Linked DNA regions of Homo sapiens: regions 1, 2, 3 and 4 are each linked to region 5. The links come from fine-mapping of genetic effects on gene expression. A gene starts in region 5. Each other region holds a variant in brackets. All regions are shown on one strand. Distances are between the middles of the regions. Region 1 overlaps LY75-CD302 (LY75-CD302 readthrough). Region 2 overlaps MARCHF7 (membrane associated ring-CH-type finger 7). Region 3 has its middle 48 kb from the start of BAZ2B. Region 4 overlaps MARCHF7 (membrane associated ring-CH-type finger 7). Region 5 holds the start of CD302 (CD302 molecule).

The links. PIP is the estimated chance that this variant, and not a neighbour inherited with it, causes the effect.
Region 1: its variant is the best candidate, but not a certain one, in a credible set for the expression of CD302 in whole blood (TOPMed, PIP 0.83).
Region 2: its variant is the best candidate, but not a certain one, in a credible set for the expression of CD302 in Th17 cells (Schmiedel 2018, PIP 0.77).
Region 3: its variant is the best candidate, but not a certain one, in a credible set for the expression of CD302 in whole blood (INTERVAL, PIP 0.58).
Region 4: its variant is the best candidate, but not a certain one, in a credible set for the expression of CD302 in whole blood (TOPMed, PIP 0.55).

What each region holds. Positions count from the first base shown.
Region 1 is chr2:159,857,885-159,862,087 of GRCh38, forward strand. It overlaps LY75-CD302 (LY75-CD302 readthrough), which reads right to left. Exons shown (of 38, transcript NM_001198760.1): 15 at 2,937-3,005; 16 at 478-592. It overlaps LY75 (lymphocyte antigen 75), which reads right to left. Exons shown (of 35, transcript NM_002349.4): 15 at 2,937-3,005; 16 at 478-592. Among named protein-coding and RNA genes, the nearest start is that of LY75, 45 kb to the right of the region's middle. The variant C/T (reference allele first, on the strand shown) is at 1,664.
Region 2 is chr2:159,763,314-159,767,313 of GRCh38, forward strand. It overlaps MARCHF7 (membrane associated ring-CH-type finger 7), which reads left to right. Exons shown (of 12, transcript NM_001282805.2): 11 at 1,313-1,361; 12 at 3,971-4,000. Among named protein-coding and RNA genes, the nearest start is that of CD302, 33 kb to the right of the region's middle. The variant G/GT (reference allele first, on the strand shown) is at 1,530.
Region 3 is chr2:159,662,125-159,666,327 of GRCh38, forward strand. It overlaps a transcript of BAZ2B not described here. Among named protein-coding and RNA genes, the nearest start is that of BAZ2B, 48 kb to the left of the region's middle. The variant CTTTTTTTTTT/C (reference allele first, on the strand shown) is at 1,731.
Region 4 is chr2:159,735,916-159,739,915 of GRCh38, forward strand. The region is part of intron 4 of MARCHF7 (membrane associated ring-CH-type finger 7); the gene reads left to right. Among named protein-coding and RNA genes, the nearest start is that of MARCHF7, 25 kb to the left of the region's middle. RefSeq lists an enhancer at 1,674-2,666. The variant C/T (reference allele first, on the strand shown) is at 2,349.
Region 5 is chr2:159,795,638-159,799,840 of GRCh38, forward strand. It overlaps CD302 (CD302 molecule), which reads right to left and starts at 2,571. Exons shown (of 6, transcript NM_014880.5): 1 at 2,495-2,571. The coding sequence starts at 2,561. The region is part of intron 33 of LY75-CD302 (LY75-CD302 readthrough); the gene reads right to left. It overlaps LOC124906083 (a long non-coding RNA gene), which reads left to right. Exons shown (of 2, transcript XR_007087273.1): 1 at 1-2,315; 2 at 3,182-4,203.

The DNA.
Region 1 (4,203 bases), 62 kb after region 5:
TGGCTTCTCAAATTTGAATTTATATAAAGTATTAGCAGTTTTATAGTTCATTGAAAATTGCTTCTAAATTTTACAGGGACCTGCCAAATTTTTATTTCTTGACTTCTGCCTTATTCTTCCCAAGATTATCTTTATTTTTTCATTTTGCATCAAAATAAAAACGAAAATGATTCTGCATTTCTCCTTTTGCTTAAAATAATATTTCATCCAAAATCTAATCTCCCTGAATGAGCCTCACATTTTATCTTCTATGCAAATTCTTCCATGATCAAAGAGTAAGATATCACTAAATTTCAATAAGCTAGCCTTCTATTAGAAGCCGGAGTCAGGCAGGGGGTGCTCCACATATTAATTGCATCATCATCATAGGCTTTTAGACATCAGAATTATAGATCAAAATGCTCCCCTAGCTACTTTGAGCTAGGCATTCACAATGTTAACATGAGAAGGTTGTGAAAAGGAATAACTACCACTTACCTTTTGGAATTTGGCACACCCATTCAAGTTTTGTATCACAAGCAAAAGGCCTCAAATAAATAAATTCTCTATCATCATAGAAATGCCAGCCTCTTCGCCATGGCCTATGAAATACCTATAAGAGGAAAAGTATTGCAGAATATTTTGAAGTTGATACATCCCTTATGGAACACTAAACTGTAAGCCCTATGACTTTGATCTCTATTTTAGCTCTAGCACCTAAGATATTTGTTCGATAAATGAACACATGAATTAATGGAATATTTAAACAGTAATACCCTGAGCAAGAGCCCTCAAAGGGGCTAACAAAGGAAATATGTTGTAAAGTCATGTTTATGTCCAAAATGCAAATTTTCTCCCCCACACCTGACAATTTTTGTTAGAATATTTATTTCAGAGGTATCCAAGCACCAAGCTGTGATCAAATTAGATCAGAAAGCGACATAAAGGTCCAGCCTCAGTGGCTCAGGCTCCTTCTCTGGTGTTACCATGCCATTTCTAGGATTTTGCCCTTCTCCACATGGTCCAGGATGGCTCATTACAAATTCCAGTCAGCAAGTAGGATAAAAAGGATAGGGGAAGGCATTACTTGGGAGAGACATCCATCACTTCTTAGACTATTTTCTCTTAAGACCAAGTTTCTGGGGGTTCTGTGGCAGGTGAGGTAAGATTTTCCTTACAGAACACTGCCCTGGCTGGGCTTGTTCCTGATGCAGGTTGCATTAGTATCTCTTTATTTATTTGGTAGATTTTCAAATCTCTCCATACTTGGCAACTCTATTTCCCTAGAACACAGTTTATTGTACCAGTGTTCTCAACACTACTAAAAATTCCATAAGCTTCTCTGAAGTTTTCACCTTTTCCTGTGTTACATTGGGAATTCTATAAAAATGACATGTACTACACAGTTTATTACTAGAAGAGTTACTTTGAAAACAGTGCTTTCCTGTGGTTTTGTCAGTTCTTATATCCCTCAGCCTTCCTGTAACATTTCTGGTCAGCCACCTTGTTGAATCTCTTTCTTGGACTACAAATCAAAGATATTAACTGATGTCTCCTCCATCTTCATCTTTTTTCACTCTATATATTGGCAGTTCCTCCAAATCCACTTCTTGGCCCTTTTTTTAAAAATATACATTTTCCTTTCAACTCAAGACTCTTGATCTCAACTTACCATAGCATACAT[C/T]TTATAGCTAGCTTGGATTCAAAATATCTGAACTAAAACATACAATTTTCTCATAAATCAATACCCTTTCTATTTCTATAAATGCCTAGTCATATAGCATAGTGGTTAAGAGTACCAGACCCAGACACACATGGGTGTAAATTTCAGTTCTTTCAGTTTAAATTTACTCCATGTAAGCTGGGGTAAATTACTCACAGCTCAAATTTCCATGTGAGATGAATACAGTAACAGTGCCTACCTCACAAGATTGCTTATGTGCTATGTGACATATGTGACATGCCTAGTATAGTGGCTGGCTCATAAAGGAGTTAATCAGTGTTAGCTGCTCCATCATCATCATCACCACCACCATGGACCATCACCATCACCATCCTTATTATTCTTTCATAATATTCTTGTTCTTGCATAAAACTTGTATTTCGCATGTCATAGTCTTTACTCAGTGGTGTTGTAATTGCTTGTTTACTTGTCTTTATTTCCTACTAGACTTTAGTTTTGTGAAGACAATGGCTATGCTTTGTACCTTGTCATTGTTCTATCACCCAGTGCCTCACTGACTCCTTGGACTGTTTATGAAATGGATACATGAATGCATTCTGCAAAGGAAGATGCCTCACTGGTCTTCTATGCCTTCCAATCTTACCTGTTGCTTTTGACATCTGTCTCAAGATGAATCTTCCTCATACCCTCCTTAGTTCATGTGACCCTCCCTACTCAGAAACTTTAAAAAATGCCCTGTTGCCTATCAAGAAGTGTAGAAATTCCTTAAAGTGGCATCAATCTGATTTCCTAATACTGTTATCAAGGACAGCACCAATGAAACTTCTTGATCTGTATTCTGTTCTCCACTGCCCTCTTCCACTTCCACCTTATTTTATACCACTTTCTCATACCATCCCCTCATGAAAAAACCTTACCCTATCCCATTTGTAGAAACTCTATCCATCCTTAAAGTCCCAGTTCAAGTCCCACCTCTTCCTGGGAAATGGCCATGGGACTCACTTTCTCCTCTGAATTTCATTAGCCTTCCTCAGCCCCCTCATTTGGAGCATATTACTGCGTGGTAATGAGAGAGGTTTTCTTGAATATGAATTTTATCCTCTCAAATGAAGTGTAAGTTAGGCTGCTGAGGGCCAGGCCATGGGTGTGCTTATCTCTCACTGCATCTAACATCATGCTTCACATAAAAAGACACTCCATGGATCTGTTACTTGACTGCATATGATGATGGACTTATGTTTTAAATATGCAGATTTTCCAGCATTGTACTGACCTTGACAGCAGCACAGTCTCTGATGTCATAATCCTGCTGAAACTCATTTGGCATGATAATAGTAGACACCTGAAAAGACAAGAGAGGCTTGAGAATTTAAGACTGATGTATAAATATTTGCAATTTAGATGTAATTTAGGCAGCCTTAATCACTCAAGTGCGTTGATATGCCACAGAAAGAAAACTTTTCCATCTCTTTTTTATATCATGATGCTAAATCATGAGAGGACTTAGCAAATGTCATAATGTCATAAGTTTCCAAACAAAGGAAGCCACAGTTTCAGAAGTGGAAGTTAATAGTGTATTAAGTTCGCCGCTGGAGTCATAGAGAATCAGGTTTGCAAAATACTTTTTTCTTTTTTTGCATGTGTTGAAATGCTCATTATTTGATTAACTAATCTCAGATATGCTCCAATTTGAAAATAAACTCAAGGAGTTTTACATTTAGAAAGAATAAAAAAGGAGGTGACATTGGAGTCACCAATTTTTGGTGACAAAAATTGGAGTAAATATTGAATATCTGAGAATAATTTTGCTCCTATAACTATTACACTAATATATCCTTATAATATAAATGTGGAATAATAGCAAGGATTTTCTAGAGGTTTCTCCAAACAAATAATTTCCTCCAATAAGGATACTTTTGGCCAGGCACAGTGACTCATGCTGGTAATCCCAGCACTTTGGGAGGCCAAGGTTGGCAGATGGCTTGAGCCCAGGAATTCGAGACCAGCCTGGGCAACATGGTGAAACCCCATCTCTACAAAAAATACAAAAATTAGCTGGATGTGGTGGCATGTGCCTGTACTTGAGAGGCTGAGACATGAGGATCAATTGAACCCAGGAGGTTGAGGCTGCAGTGAGTCATACTGGCACCACTGTATTCTAGCCTGGGTGACACAGTGAGACTCTGTCATCCCCACCTAGTCCCCCCAGAAAAAGATATTTTATTTTTTGTATAACTCTTCCATATTTAGATAATAAAAAGAAAAGCTTCTTACTATAAAAATGAAAATAAACAGTATAAAGAGAAAGCTTTGAAAACAATCACTTGTGGCCAGATGTGGCTCACACCTGTAATTCCAACACTTTGGGAGGCTAAGATGGGTAGACTGCCTGAGCTCAGGAGTTTGAGACCAGCCTGGGCAACATGGTGAAACCCTATCTCTACAAAAAAATATAAGAATTAGCTGGGCGTGGAAGGGCACGGTAGCTCACACCTGTAATCCCAGCACTTTGGGAGGCTGAGGCGGGTGGATCACAGGGT
Region 2 (4,000 bases), 32 kb before region 5:
ATTATCACTTAGAAACCTGAAATTGAACTCCAAAAGCCAAAGAGTATGGGAAATTAACTTCAATTTATTTGTTACTGTTCTACAAAAGATTACCAGTGTACTAATTTTTAAGTGTCCATATTACAAAGTATTTTAGATATGGAATAGTTGGTTGTTTACTGTGTGTGCTATTAGCCATAATACAACATTTTGGCCAGCTGTATGTTAGGTATTTATAAGTAAATGATGCTCTTTGTGTCAGTGTACCAGAGGAAACTTTATGCTTTGCTGTCTGGGCCATTTTGTGTAGCAAGGGCTAGGGTCTCTATGTATCTGCCATTATTGTAGCATTCTGAACACTTCATGTCTTGAAATGTGTTCATAAGTATATCCTTCAAACTTTCTTACATGTTAACTTCGGTGATAAAAGTGTAGTAGAGTTCATGTAATGTTTTTATTTTGAAAATTATCAAATAACTGCAATTCAATGTATGTAATACTCCTTCTAAATTAGTAAAAAATTTTTCTTTATTTTATCATGTGGACATTATTCCAGTGAGCTGGTTAACAGATAATTACCATTGAAGAGCATTCATATTATCTATCAAGAGCATTCAGAATTTGAGCAAAGATCTCTTGACTTCTAAGTACTTTACAAATTGTGAGCCCCTAAAACCTTAATACCGTAAAATGATTTCTAAAAAGGTACCTTAAGTCTTCAGGATGAATAAACCATATAAAACATTTAAGAACTTCTGAATTCATGTGTTTTTAAAAGTTCATATTAACAAGTTTTACAGTGGAAAATTACAGAATTTTGGATGATACTCCAAAGTGGAAGTCATTAGGATTTTTTTTAATGTATAGAACTGTATACTTTTATCAAATTTAGGTAGGAAAATATTGGTTCTTGGGAGTTTTGTGTGTGTGTGTGTGTGTGTGTGTGTGTGTGTGTGTGTGTGTGCGCGCGCCCACTGAAACTGAATTTATTTGGGTCCAAATACAAGGGTGGTTTTTTGTTTTTTGTTTTTTTTCCTCCATTTCGTAATTTTTTGAAGTGTTTATAAGAAGACAATATCATTGGATAAAATTATTGTATCTGCTCCCAATTTTAAAAAACTGGTTTCTACATGATTATAAAGATTATATAAAACATTTAAAAATTAATGCCATTAAGCTTGTGATTTTTGATGTTAGGGGGAGAAAAACCCCTATTTAAAGGCTTAAACTGATGTTTGACTTTTTAAGTAGAAATGAATCTCCTATACTGATTCTCTCTTTAGATCCATTTGCAACATTTAAACTACTGTATTTCTTTCTGCATTGTTTCTAGTTTATTAACCTTGCAAGAACTCTTCAGGCACATATGGAAGATCTCGAAAGTAGGTGGAATTTCCCCTCCCCAGACTTGTTGAATTTACTTTTGCAAATTAAACCCAAAGCAAAACCTAAGTATATACTCTGTTCTGCCAAATTAGAGCTCATTTATAGGCTTAGTAATACCAAAATGATTGATTTGGGAAATATGGGTTGGGAAACTGACATTAGTT[G/GT]TTTTTTTTTTTAAGCATATTTTAAGGTATGGAAGCATGTAATTTTAACTGCATTTTACTTTTTTTTTTCAAAGAGAAATTTATTGTTGATCACCTTGATTTCAGGATTTATAATAAAAAAGGCATAAATCTTAACTACTAATCAAACCAACATTTCTTAATCTGTTAGGATTTTGTTTTGTTTCGTTTCTGGTAAGAAATTTTACCTGTTACTCAGGTTTGTTAGATCATAAGAGATTATTCCTGGGCTTACCTATGATTCCAGGAAAATATGGGACAAGGAGTCCTAATTCTGAATCCATATCAGAAGCCATGAAGGGCTTTGTTTTGTGGGTTTTTTGTTGTTGGTGGTGGTGGTAGTGGGTTTTTTTTTGGCTTTTTGTAGGTCCTCATGGACCTTTAATAGGTAGCCAGCTCTGCCAACAGCTCAAATCTCTTAAGATCACATTCCAGCATCAGGATTTCTGGCTGGGATTATAAGTGAAGGCACTTAATTCTCAAATCTCTACAGGCATCTATACAGCCTACCCTCTTCTTAATGTCCTGTAACTTCCAGTGTGCTTCATACCATGTGGGCATAGGTATTGGTGGCTCTGGAATAGTTTCTAGAAATTGAAGATTACCCCACCCAACCCCTACATATTTTACTTTTTCACCCTTTGTTGCCCATTCCAAAACACTATCCAAAGTGTCTTTTTAAAATACGTATTCTTCAGTTGAATACTTCTATACTCATCTTCAGACTATTTGGAGTGTTATCTATAGTGTGCATAACATTTTTACTTTTAGAGAAAGCTCAGCATCCTTTGAAGTAAGGTTTAAAAAGGACTTAGTCCTCATAGGAACTTTTTAATTCTAGATAATCTAAAACATAGATTTTTGTCATTGTCTATACTACTTTCAAGTTTTTAAAGGTTTTGAGATGAAACCAGGTAACATATTTTCACAGTTTTAATTAGGATATGTGAAAAGAAAGGAGTCAGTGTGAATTCACTTGGTATAAAATTTTTTCCCTTTATACCTTCTTTCAGATCCCTTAGGTTGGCCTAATACAAAGGTCTCTTCTTTGTTTTTTTAAATTACAATTTATACTTTGTCCAACGTCATGATAGTAATTTGTTTCAGTGTATGTTTTCCCCAGATTTCTCCATTTTAAAAAACTAACATTCTCGTTTAAAATTTAGTTTCTTAAACATAGTATTGTCTGCTCCTAACATGTGGGAAGAAAAAGATGGAGGTGAAATATGTCCATACTCAAATAAGCATGAAAGACAAGGGTGCTGCAAGTTAACCCCTAAATATCAGAGTATTAGTACATTCTGAAATGGGTTCTGACTAAATTATCCTCTCCTGTGGAGTGGAGTTAAATGGAAAAACACAAGAAGTTCCTTAATAAGCTGTAATTTTTTAGTTTGGTATTTCTCAGTGATAGAGCATAAAACTTAACAGTAGAGTTTATTATCAGTCATGACTTAGTTATATGCTTTGTCATTTATTAAATGGATTTAAATCTATTAGTGTTGCATAGTTTTTCTGTGCTTTGCCCTAGGTTGATTCCATTTGTTGGATGCTCTTAATTTGTCCAATGTAAATATAAAAAGAGAGGGCATTAAACCGTTTTGCCCTATAATGGGGGAAAGATGCTGGTTAGATGTTTATTTTAGTGAGCTTGCATTTTCTTACACGTGCAAAGCAGTTCATAGAATTCATAGTTTTACACTTACTATGTCTTTCCTAAAGACACCCAGGATGCTTTATTTTTAACTCTTGAGCCACTAGTGACTCTTGAATAAATTGAGGTCAGAAATGTTGCAAAAGTGGTAAGTTTCTGGCAGTGTGGAGACAGGGGAATAATCTCAACAGTAGGTTTTTACTGAATCCAATTATTTTAATTTAGGCTGTGTCTATATGAAGCTTTTTTGACTTACTAAATGAACTTTTATCTTGGCATTGTATAGACATAGCTTTGATGTAAATTGCAAGAACACCCATAACCTCTTATTCTATGTACACTTCTTTTCATTCTCATCGGATGCACCAAACATGCAGCGGTAATAAGCCAGATTTTACTCAGGTGTGTGAGAGCACTTGCCTTAAGTTGACTTTTTTCCTAGTGTTTATATATCATTAGCTACTATGAACACAGATTGATCTCAGAAACATTTTAGAAGATGCTCTTGAACCACATTTTTAAGCACTTTCATTTTTATAAAAATTGATATAACATTACAAAACGGTGTGGGGGCGGGGAGAATTGTGGTTGGGTATCACCCACAGGCAGACCACCCTAACCCTGTCATACAACTTATCATTTTGATCAAACAATATACTAAATTGGGATTTTTGTTTTTACAAGTCATTGCTGTTCTGGCTTCATATTTACACTTCCCATTCTTATCCCCCTTAAAATCATTCTTGATCATCCTGTTTTCTTTCAACAGCTTCAGAGGATGATTCCGAAGAAGACGGAG
Region 3 (4,203 bases), 130 kb before region 5:
ACTTGGCATGTTATCAAGGCTCATCTGCACTGTAGCATGCACCACTATTCCTTTTTGTTGGCCAAAAATAATATTCCATTGGATAGATTATACCACAATTTGCTTATTGATCTGTTGATGGACATTTAGTTCTTTCCACCTTTTGGCAATTGTATATAGTACTACTATAAACATTCATGCACAAGTATTTGTTTGGGTATCTGTTTTTAATTATTTAAGGTATATACCTAAATGTAGAATTGTTTGGTTATATGGTATTTCTATGTTTAGCTTTTTCATGTACTGCCAAACTGTTTTCCACACAGTGGCTGAACCACTTTACATACCTGCCAGCACCATATGAGAGGTTCCAATATTTCCACATTCTCACTGGTTCTTGTTTTTTACTTTTGTTTGTTTGTTTCGCTTTGTTTTGTTTTTGAGATGAAGGCTTGCTGTAGCCCAGGCTGGAGTGCAATGGCGTGATCTCTGCTCACTGCAATCTCTGCTTCCCGGGCTCAAGTGATTCTCCTGCCTCAGCCTCCCGAGTAGCTGAGATTACAGGTGCCCACCACCATGCCCGGCTAATTTTTTTTTTTTGTATTTTTAGTAGACATGGGGTTTCACCATGTTGGCCAGGCTGGCTTTGAACTCCTGACCTCAAATGATCCACCTGCCTCAGCCTCCCAAAGTGCTGGGATTACCGGAGTGAGCCACTGCGCCCAGCCCTTACTTTCGGTTTTTAAACAGCCATCCTAGTGGTTGTGAATTAGTATCTTATTGTCATTTTGATTTTCATTTCCCTGATGGCTAATGATGTTGAACATAATTTCATGTGCTTATAAACCATTTATATACCTTCTTTAGATAAATATGTATTTTGATTCTTTGTCCATTTTTTAAAATGAGCTTTTTATTGAATTGTAAGTGGTATTTATATATTCAAGATACAAGTTTCTTATTAAATGTATGATTTGCAAATATTTCTCCCATTCTGTTGGTGGTCTTTTACCTTTTTGATGGTGACCCTAGGACAAAAGTTTTAACATTGGCAAAGTCTAATTTATCTAATTTTCTTTTGTTGTTGTTTTTTTTTTCTTTTTTTTCTTTTTTTTTTTGAGACAGAGTCTCACTGTCGGCCAGGCTGGAGTGCAGTGGCATGATCTCAGCTCACTGCAACCTCCGCCTCCCAGGCTCAAGCAATTCTCCTGCCTCAGCCTCCCAAGTAGCTGGGATTACAGGTGTGTGCCACCACGCCCAGCTAATTTTTTGTGTTTTTAGTAGAGATGCAGTTTCACTATGTTGGTCAGGCTGGTCTCAAACTCCTGACCTCAGGTGATCCTCCCGCCTTGGCCTCCCAAAGTGCTGGGATTACAGGTGTAAGCCACCACGCACAGCCTGTTGCTAATGTTTTTTTTTTTTCTTTTTTGAGATGGAGTCACACTCTGTCACCCAGGCTGGAATGCAATGGCGTGGTCTGGTTTTGGCTCACTGCAACCTCTGCCTCCTGGGTTCAAGCGATTCTCCTGCCTCAGCCTCCCGAGCAGCTGGTATTACAGGCACATGCCACCACGTCGGCTAATTTTTGTATTTTTGGTAGAGACGGGGTTTCACTATGTTGGCCAGGCTGGTCTTGAACTCCTGACCTCGTGATCTGCTTGCCTTGGCCTCCAAAAATGCTGGGATTACAGGTGTGAGCCACCGGGCCCGGCTGCCTGTTGCTAACTTTTAAGAAACTGTCAAACCATTTT[CTTTTTTTTTT/C]TTTTTTTTTTTTTTTTTTTTTTAATTATACTCTAAGTTTTAGGGTACATGTGCACATTGTGCAGGTTAGTTACATATGTATACATGTGCCATGCTGGTGCGCTGCACCCACTAACGTGTCATCTAGCATTAGGTATATCTCCCAATGCTATCCCTCCCCCCTCCCCCGACCCCACCACAGTCCCCAGAGTGTGATATTCCCCTTCCTGTGTCCATGTGATCTCATTGTTCAATTCCCACCTATGAGTGAGAATATGCGGTGTTTGGTTTTTTGTTCTTGCGATAGTTTACTGAGAATGATGGTTTCCAATTTCATCCATGTCCCTACAAAGGACATGAACTCATCATTTTTTATGGCTGCATAGTATTCCATGGTGTATATGTGCCACATTTTCTTAATCCAGTCTATCATTGTTGGACATTTGGGTTGGTTCCAAGTCTTTGCTATTGTGAATAGTGCCGCAATAAACATACGTGTGCATGTGTCTTTATAGCAGCATGATTTATAGTCCTTTGGGTATATACCCAGTAATGGGATGGCTGGGTCAAATGGTATTTCTAGTTCTAGATCCCTGAGGAATCGCCACACTGACTTCCACAATGGTTGAACTAGTTTACAGTCCCACCAACAGTGTAAAAGTGTTCCTATTTCTCCACATCCTCTCCAGCACCTGTTGTTTCCTGACTTTTTAATGACTGCCATTCTAACTGGTGTGAGATGATATCTCATAGTGGTTTTGATTTGCATTTCTCTGATGGCCAGTGATGATGAGCATTTCTTCATGTGTTTTTTGGCTGCATAAATGTCTTCTTTTGAGAAGTGTCTGTTCATGTCCTTCGCCCACTTTTTGATGGGGTTGTTTGTTTTTTTCTTGTAAATTTGTTTGAGTTCATTGTAGATTCTGGATATTAGCCCTTTGTCAGATGAGTAGGTTGCGAAAATTTTCTCCCATTTTGTAGGTTGCCTGTTCACTCTGATGGTAGTTTCTTTTGCTGTGCAGAAGCTCTTTAGTTTAATTAGATCCCATTTGTCAATTTTGGCTTTTGTTGCCATTGCTTTTGGTGTTTTGGACATGAAGTCCTTGCCCCATCGTCTCAGCCCAAAATCTCCTTAAGCTGATAAGCAACTTCAGCAAAGTCTCAGGATACAAAATCAATGTACAAAAATCACAAGCATTCTTATACACCAACAACAGACAAACAGAGAGCCAAATCATGGGTGAACTCCCATTCACAATTGCTTCAAAGAGAATAAAATACCTAGGAATCCAACTTACAAGGGATGTGAAGGACCTCTTCAAGGAGAACTACAAACCACTGCTCAAGGAAATAAAAGAGGACACAAACAAATGGAAGAACATTCCATGCTCATGGGTAGGAAGAATCAATATCGTGAAAATGGCCATACTGCCCAAGGTAATTTACAGATTCAATGCCATCCCCATCAAGCTACCAATGACTTTCTTCACAGAATTGGAAAAAACTACTTTAAAGTTCATATGGAACCAAAAAAGAGCCCACATCACCAAGTCAATCCTAAGCCAAAAGAACAAAGCTGGAGGCATCACACTACCTGACTTCAAACTATACTACAAGGCTACAGTAACCAAAACAGCATGGTACTGGTACCAAAACAGAGATATAGATCAATGGAACAGAACAGAGCCCTCAGAAATAACGCCGCATATCTACAACTATCTGATCTTTGACAAACCTGAGAAAAACAAGCAATGGGGAAAGGATTCCCTATTTAATAAATGGTGCTGGGAAAACTGGCTAGCCATATGTAGAAAGCTGAAACTGGATCCCTTCCTTACACCTTATACAAAAATCAATTCAAGATGGATTAAAGATTTAAACGTTAGACCTAAAACCATAAAAACCCTAGAAGAAAACCTAGGCATTACCATTCAGGACATAGGCGTGTCAAACCATTTTCTAAGGTGGATTCCATTTTACACGTCCACCATCAGTGTTTGCAAATTCTAGTTGGTGCACATCCTAAACAGCATCCCATATGGACATCTTTTTTAGTTTTAACAATTGTAATGTGTGTGAAATGGGTGTCTTTGGTTTTAATTTGCATTTCCCTGTTGACTAATGATGTTGGGCATATTTTCATGTGGTTATTTTCACATTCATGTATCCTTTTATGATGTACCTAGGCAAAACTTTTGTTCATTTGTTAAATGGGTCACGTTCTTCTTGTTATTGAGTTGTAAAAGTTCTGTTAATATCCTGCAAGCAAGTCCCAGTCCTTTGATATATATTTACAATATTGTTCCTCCATGCATGCACTGCATTTTCATTTTATTAAGTGTGTTTTCAAAGAGCAAAAGTTTTAAATTTTGATCTTTAAAAAAAGGCCAATTTATTATATTTTTTTATGATTCTTTTTTTTTTTTTTTTTTTTGAGACAGGGTCTCGCTCTGTCGCCCAGGCTAGAGTGCAATGGCCCAATTT
Region 4 (4,000 bases), 60 kb before region 5:
CCAGGAGTACAAGACCAGCCTAGGCAATATAGTGATAGCCCATCTCTAAAAAAATTTCAAAACTAACCTGATATGGTGGTGCACACCTGTAGTCCTAACTTTTTGGGAGGCTGAGGTGGAAGGATCCCTTAAGCTCATAAGGTTGAGGCTTCAGTGAGCTATGATGGCACCACTTCACTACTGCTTGGGCCATAGAGTGAGACCCTGTCTCTTAAAATAAGGGAATGGAATTGCCGAGTCATGCATAACCTCTGTGTTCAATCGTTTGGGGAACTGCCATACTGTTTTCAAACTGGCTAGATCATTTTACATTCCCTTTTGTGTGTATGAAGATTCCAGTCTCTCCACATTCTCATCAGCACTTATCTTACTTTCTGATTCTAGCCATCCCAATGGGTATGAAGTGGTATGTATCTCATTGTGGTTTTGATTTGGATTTCCTTGATGACTAATGATGTTATACATCTTTTCATGTGCTAATTGGCCGTTTACTGTACATTTTTCAGAAATGCCTATTTATAATAGTTCCTTTGCTCATTTTAAAGTACACTTGTCTTGTTACTCAGTTGTAAGTGTTCTTTATATATTCTAGATACAAGCTCCTTATTGGATACATGATTTGCAAATATTTTCTCCTTAAGTTTTTTTATTTTTTTAATTGCATTGTTTTAAGGGCATTTGTGTTGGGAAAATATTTTAAAACCTTAGAAATAATTTTCTGAAAGCAAATATTGACTTATACAATAGTAATAGTAAATGATTTCATTGACTATACTTCCAGTAAACCTCTTGTTGGAAAGGTGGTATGAATAACTATTATGAAGGTAAAAAGAAATAAAATGAAAATTGGATGCCTGCTAGTTATATAAAGTCTTGGAAAGTTATTTTCTATTCATTGTGCATAGAGTATCTATAGCTATTAAGTCTCCAAGCTGTCTTATTGATGATTTCTCAGATACACTATATAGTATTTCAGCTACTTTGGTTGGGCTAGATAGCCCTCCACCTCTTCCCTCATTTTATTGAGTTATAATTCATATACCATACAATTCACCATATCACAGATAGCCTTTTGAATTGGAAATAACTGATGAAAACTATTTACTCTGGGAGCCAAATCTGTTACCTGTCTGGGTAGAGACTGGAAAGTTAATGAAAAAGAAAGAAACCTCTTTAAACTCCAGTGTAAATTTAGTTGCTTCCATCTAGTTTCATACGAGTGCTCATAGTCGGGAGGCAGGAAATGCAAAAAAAGATTGATTAGTTTTCATAAAAATTAAAATTTGTGTGCATCGATACCAAGAGAGTGAAAAGACAATCCACAGAATGAGAGAAAATATTTGCAAAGTATATATCTTACTGGATACTGAGACTTGTATCCAGAATATATGAAGAACTCTTACCTCTCAACAATAAAAATATAACCCAATTTCAAATGGGCAAAGGACTTTAATAAACATTTTTCCAAAGATATATTAATGGCTGATAAGCACATGAAAAAATATTAGTCATTAGGGAAATGCAAGTCAGAACTACAGTGAGATACTTAACACCCACTAGCATAGCCAAAATAAAAAAGATGGATAGGCTGGGCACAGTGACTCATGCCTGTAATCCCAGGCCTGAGTTGGGAGGCCAAATCTGGGAGGATTGCTTGAACCCAGGAATTTGAGACCTGTGCAACATAGTGAGACCCAGTCTCTACCAAGAAATAATTTAAAAATTAGCTGTGCATGGTGTCGCATGCCTGTAGTCTCAGCTACTCTGGAGGCTGAGGTGGAAGGATTGCTTGGGCCCAGGAAGTCAAGGCCACAGTCACCTGTGATTGCATCACTGCATTCTAGCCTGGGCAACAGAGCTGAGACCCTGTCTCAAAATTAAAAAAAAAGATGGACAATCACAGTGTTGGTAAGTGGTGGAGAAATTGGAACCTTCATACATAGTTGATGGGACTGTAAAATGGTACAGCTGTCAGCACTTGGAGTGTTGCTTTTCCAGCTAGAAGCCTCTGTGGCTGGTGGTGCCTTTGCCCAGGTTTTGCTCGGGCCTGCTGGGTGTGTTCTGCCTACTCGGACTGGCAGGCTTTGTTCGACTCGTGCTATCAGCTCGGATCCCACGCCTGCCAAGGGTGAGCCAGACATGGATCGGCAGGGGGTGCATGGGCAAGTGAGCGCAGGGTCCGGCCACCGTTTACAGCCAGGCACACTGGGTGCAGTGGGGCAGGCAGCTCTAGGCACTGGTGCCCTATGAGGCTGTGGATGGATCAGGTGTACCACAGGCAGCAGCTTCTGTGGGCACTGAGGAACGCAGTGGCACCCAAAAGCTTGGAGACACAAGGAACTACAGAG[C/T]CCCAAAGAGGTTGTCACAGCCCTGGTTCAGGGAGCTCCTAGGTCTGGACTCCCCAAAGGGTCAGAGCTCTTCCGTCCTTGTCGCCGGCAGCATGGTGAGTGGGGGGTAGGAAGGGATGTTTCAGCACTGTTTGTGTTACAGCTCTTCGAGTCCCACCATTTGGCGGGTCCCGAGTTCTTGTCCCACGTCCAGAGAGAATGAGGTACACAGACAGTTGGAGGGTTAGCAAGGCGAAGAGGGGCTTTATTGAGCAGTAGCACAGCTCTCAGGAGACCCAAAGTGGGTGGCTCCTTTCCACAGGCAGGTCATCCCAACGAGTGTGTAGCTTTCAGTGGAGAGGAGACCAGACAGGAGTGGGTAGCTCCTGTCCATAGGGAAGTCAGCCTGACATCTGGCTGAGTCAGATTTTCATGGGCTTCAGAGAAGAGGAAGTGCATGCTGATTGGTCCATGGGAGGCAATGGGTGGGCCTGGGATAAGCACCATAAGTTCTCACTCCGGTCCGTGGAACTGGCAGCCCAGCCTCCAGGCTTCAGGCCATCCCAGGCTTAAAGGTAGGGTTTCACTAGGGACCTGCCCCTTTTCACCCAGGAGCATGTCTGCCTCCTGCTACTGTTCATGGCACCCAGGCTGTTTGTGCCAAGGGATGCCTGCAGACCCATGCCAAGCCACCCTCAGTTCCCCCTTGGCTTCCCTTTGTGCTTGTTGGTGCCCAAAGTCCAGACGGGGGCCAAGGTAGCAGTGGGCTGGTGTGTCGGCACTGCCCCAAGCATGCGCATACACACCTGGATCGTGACAGTGCCCAAGCTTGGCCAAAACTTTGCTCCAAAATCGGAGCAGGAGGCGGGGGCGGGAAGGGAGGCTTCTCAGGCCCCTGAGAGCACAGGGATACCCAAGTCTACAGCCACAGCTGGGTCAGGGAGCACAGGGCTCCCACCCCACCAACTTGGAAGTGGTCAGGGCTCCCACCTGTTGCTGACTCTGTGGAGCGCACAGACCCTGCCACGCCTCCCCTGCTGCAGCCGGCGTCTTTGTGGCAGCCGCTCCAGATGAACTGCTGCTGCCATCACAGCTGTTAGCATCAACCTATAGTTGGAAAAATAGTAATTCCCCCAAATATCAAACATCAAGTTACTACATGATCTATCAGTTACACCCAAGAGTATTGAAAACATACATCCATACAAAAATTTACAGTTGTTCATAACGGCATTGTTTATAAGTGAAAACAACCCCAAAACTACTTGTTTAAGGATTCGTCATGCCCAATGTGGTATACTTTGAAGACAGACTTATTCCCTGATTTCATTTGGCCTATAGTTCTGGACAGCAGAAGAGATAATACATTGTTAAATGAATCTGACACTTTATTTAATTGTTCAAAGAATTCCGAGGGAAAAAAACAATTGCTTCAGACTGAGGATATTTGAACAAATATGGACAAAATTGGATTGTAGGAACCAGGAAAAGGTTTGATTTTGAACTCAAGCCAATAGCAAAACTAACCAAAACATTCCTTCTATATACTGACATTATGTATACTGATATGTATATCTATATGCTGATATTAACAAACATTTTTTGTCTTGGATATAGCCATATAATCTACATGTTGTGTCGTGAGTCATGAAAATTGTTTAATGAACAGTGAG
Region 5 (4,203 bases):
GAGGTGGGGGCAGCCATGCCAAGGACTGGGGGAAGGTGGTGTGCACAGAAGGACCAGAGGTGTTGGAGTACCCAGATACTGTTTACTCTGTGGATACACAGAGTGAATGGCAGGAAGGGTGGTAAGAGATGACATCAGGGAAGAAGGCAGAGGCACCTCATCTAAGGCTTGTAGGACATGGCAATTCAAAATCCCTAGATTCTGATCCACATGATGATCACAGAATGAGGACTTACTCGGAACATGCTTGTTCACTCAGCTCATGCCAGGCATAGGAAACCACTGACCAAATAAATACATACTGATCATCTATTATGTGCTTAAGCACCCTTACGGAAAAACTTTTTAAAGCGATGCCATGGATTTTCACTCAGGAATTTAAAGAATGTTTTGTCCACTGTGATTTTCAAAATAATAGCTAAGAACAAGGTTAAGATCACTTCACTAATAACCTCCAGAATGACAGACAATAACAATGATTTCCGTTTCAACATCACATTTATATGCAATACCCATATTTATTATGCAACATCATAAGAGCTTTTCTATTAAGATCTTGGTATTCAGCAACAAACTCTTTCTTGACTTAGTTCTAAGCCAAATATGACCCCTGATCTTGCTTGGATGGGAGATTTGTAAAGTATTATGAAAAACACACTTAGTTTTTCAGCCCTATAACATTAGCATACATATGAATGTGTTCAGTAACCATAAACATCCAATATACATAAGGTGGTATTCATACGTTTTCTGGTTGCAACAATTACCCTTCATTTTGTATGAAGAGAATAAAGGGAAGGAAACCAAGATGAACCACGCCTGTAATAGGGACTAGACGTGGAGTTCCCACTTAATGCTCCCAATAGCCCCATGAGTAAGTATTATCTCTGTTTTACTGAAGTGCAGATAAGTTGGTTAACTAGCTAGGTCAAAGCTCACACTCATTTCCAAATTAATCCTTAAAGCTTCCTGACTGGGAGGAGCTGATTAATTAACATTAATTTATTCATCATGCACTTTTCTAAAGCTCTTGAAAAGCCTATTGATCCACACTGGACTTATCAAAGGAAATGCACAAAAATTTCCAAAGGGAAATTTGCCCTCTATTGCTGGTCAAAACAGCTTCACTGAAGAAGAGACATACCAAAATCTAGAAACTGATTTTCTTTAAAAGTCTGACAAGAAAGAAAAATCTGACAAGAAAATTCGACTAGCCTAAAGTACAAATGCACAGCCTCGCAGAGGGTGGTTTACATGAGAGTTGAGATGTTACTGGCTCGCAAAATGAGGGTGTGCAGAAGGAGGGTTCAGAGACAGCCCAGCTTTGTCTTAGACAAAATTAATGTTCCCAGTCTGAACAATGTGAACATGGGCACATCTTGTTTCTGCCCCTTTGATAGGCAGCAGATGTCACAACCAGTCATAAATGCAGGTCCACAGAAGTTTTCAAGAAAGGAACCTTGGGTTTGTATCCAAGTTCTGAGCTGCTGCTGCCTCCAACACTGAGGTCCACTGAAATATTCCTGTCAGTAGACTTCGAGCAGGCAGTTATTATAAAAACGCAGTGAAATCTGGGGCAAGGGGTGGGGGGGGGGAATCTCTTGCATTTTATTTAAATCTCTTGCACTTTATTTAAGCCCACACAAGTACTCATTTAGTTCTTGTTTATTTTGCTCTTTAATTCCTGGAATTATTCAGTCAGTGGTGTTTTTGGAAGTCTGTGTTCTCCAGAGTCTCCCCATCCACATATTTTTGACATGCTTGTATGGAAATTTTTTAAAAATAAAGACCACGGTCAATAGAATTGTGCATTTTCCTCACGAGTCGTTTTGTAAATGAATGATCACGTGTGTGATTTTTCAGATGTCACTTGCACAACAGCAGACTAGAACTTTAAAACTCCTTGATTTCAGTGAAATCCAAGCTTTGCCTATTCCCGTTCCTCTTCCATCCAGGGGTTATTTGGCTGAACTGTTTTCCTGTTTAAACAACTTGAACACCAACCAACTAGACAAACAGCGCTGCTTGCAAAAGAGGGCCTACTTCCTCCGGCCCCCACCCCCATCCCAGCAACCCCACTCCGGCCGCGCACCAGCAGGGGAAATCGCCACCAACGTCCCCGCTTCTCATTTCAGCCCGAAATTGCCCTGAAACGGCGCCCGTCGTGCGACTCCAAGTCCCTCAGTTCTCCGGCCAACTGGCCTAATTTGGGGGTTCCCTCCCCGCGGAGTGGGGTCTGCGGTGAGGATGTGGACTCCGAGGAAGACAGAGCCCTCCCTTATTCTCGGCCACCTCCCCTCCCCGAGGGCAGGCGGGTGAGAGGTGACCCGGAGCCAGGACCCACGGGGGACGGGCGTGCAGGGAAGGGCGGGATGGCCGGCCGGGTGTTGCGTCTGCGGGCCGCCCTCGGGTGCGCGGGGACGAAGAGCGTGCGTTGGGAAGGGGGCGAAGGCGGTCGCGCACGGTCCCGGCGAGGGACTACGTAAGGGCTTACCCGCGACGGCAGCAGCGGCGAGGCCCAGCAACGGCAGCAGGAGCGCGGGCAGCGCGGCCCGGAGCATGACGGCGGGTGCGGGTGGGCGGCAGCGGCTGCGCGGCCGGAGAGGAGCGGGGCGGGGCGGGAGCGGGGGCGGTGCTTCTCGCGTGCGAGTTTAATCCCCCCCCCGGGCGGAACGTGAACGGCACTGGGGGCTCCCACCAGGAGAACCCGGGTGTCCCGTCCCGCAGGAGCGGCTGGCGCGCGGCCTTCTGGAACTTCTAATTTTTGTTTTTTAAACTTTTCATTTGAATTGAAATAATTTAGGACTTTCGAAAATGTTGCAAAAACAGCACAAGAGATTTCCGTAACCCTTCAGCCAGCTTCTCTAAATATTGACATTGTATATAACGCCAGTGCAGTGATCAAACACAGGGCACTCGCACTGGGATAATGCGATTAGCTAATCTACAGCACTTACCACATTTCATTAATTGCCCCTCTAAGGGTCCTTTTCTGTTCCAAGATTCAATCCAGGATCATACATTGCATGTCGTGTCTCCTTAGTCTCCCTTTAATCTAGGACGGTTCTCTGTCATTCTTTTTCTTTCACGATCAAACCACATTTAAAAAGTACTGGCCAGTCGTTTTGTAGAATGTCCCTCAGTTTCATTTTGTCTGACATTTCCTTCTAATTGGATTCAGGTTGCGCTTTTTTGGGAAAGAGTTCCCCAGAAGTGATGTACGTGCTCGAGAAGGACAAGATGTCGATGTCTCATCACTGATGTTAACTTGGATCAGTTGGTTAAGGTGGCGTTTGCCAGCCTTCTTCTTTGGATCTACTGGCCAGAATCCTCCTTTTCAAAGACCCCTTTCAGTGGACTATGTCTCTTAGACAACTTTTCTCTGTTACCAGCTCCTGGATGAAGAGTCTTTAAGCTATGTTTGCTACAATGTATGCATAAACTGTGCAATTATACTTCACCCATGAGGGCCTCTGGACAACACTAGCCAGGGTCAAGCAAGGGTGCTTGTTTAAGCCTCATGTCATTGGCAAAAGAGTTCTATAAAATCAAGTCTAAACTCAACAACGTGAAAACAAATGACCCAGTTAAAAAAAATGGTCAGATGATCTGAATACACACGTCATCAAAGAAGTTATATAATGGCAAATAGATGAAAAGATGCTCAACATCATATGTCATTGCTGAATTGTATATGAAAACAAAAATGAAATACCACTACATACCTATTAGATACCAGAATCCAAAAACACTGACAAGACCACATGCTGGCAAAGATGTGGAGCAAAAAGAACTCTCATTCAATGCTGGTGCAAATGCAAAATGGTACAGCCACTTTGGAAGACAATTTGGAAGCTTCTTCCAAAACTAAACGTACTCTTACCATACCATCTAGCAATCACAACTCCTTGGTATTTATCCAAATGAGTTAAAAACTTACATACACACAAAAACCTGCACATGAATGTTGATAGCAGCTTTATTCATAATTGCCAGAACCTAGAGGCAAACAAGATGTCCTTCAATAAGTGAATGGATAAACAATGGCACATCCAAACAATGAAATGTTACTCAGTACCAAAATTAAATGAGCTATCAAGCCACAAAAAGACATGGAAGAACTTTAAATATGTATTGCTAAGAGAAAGAAGCCAATCTGAAAAGACTGCATACTATATGATTCCAACTATATGACATTTTAGA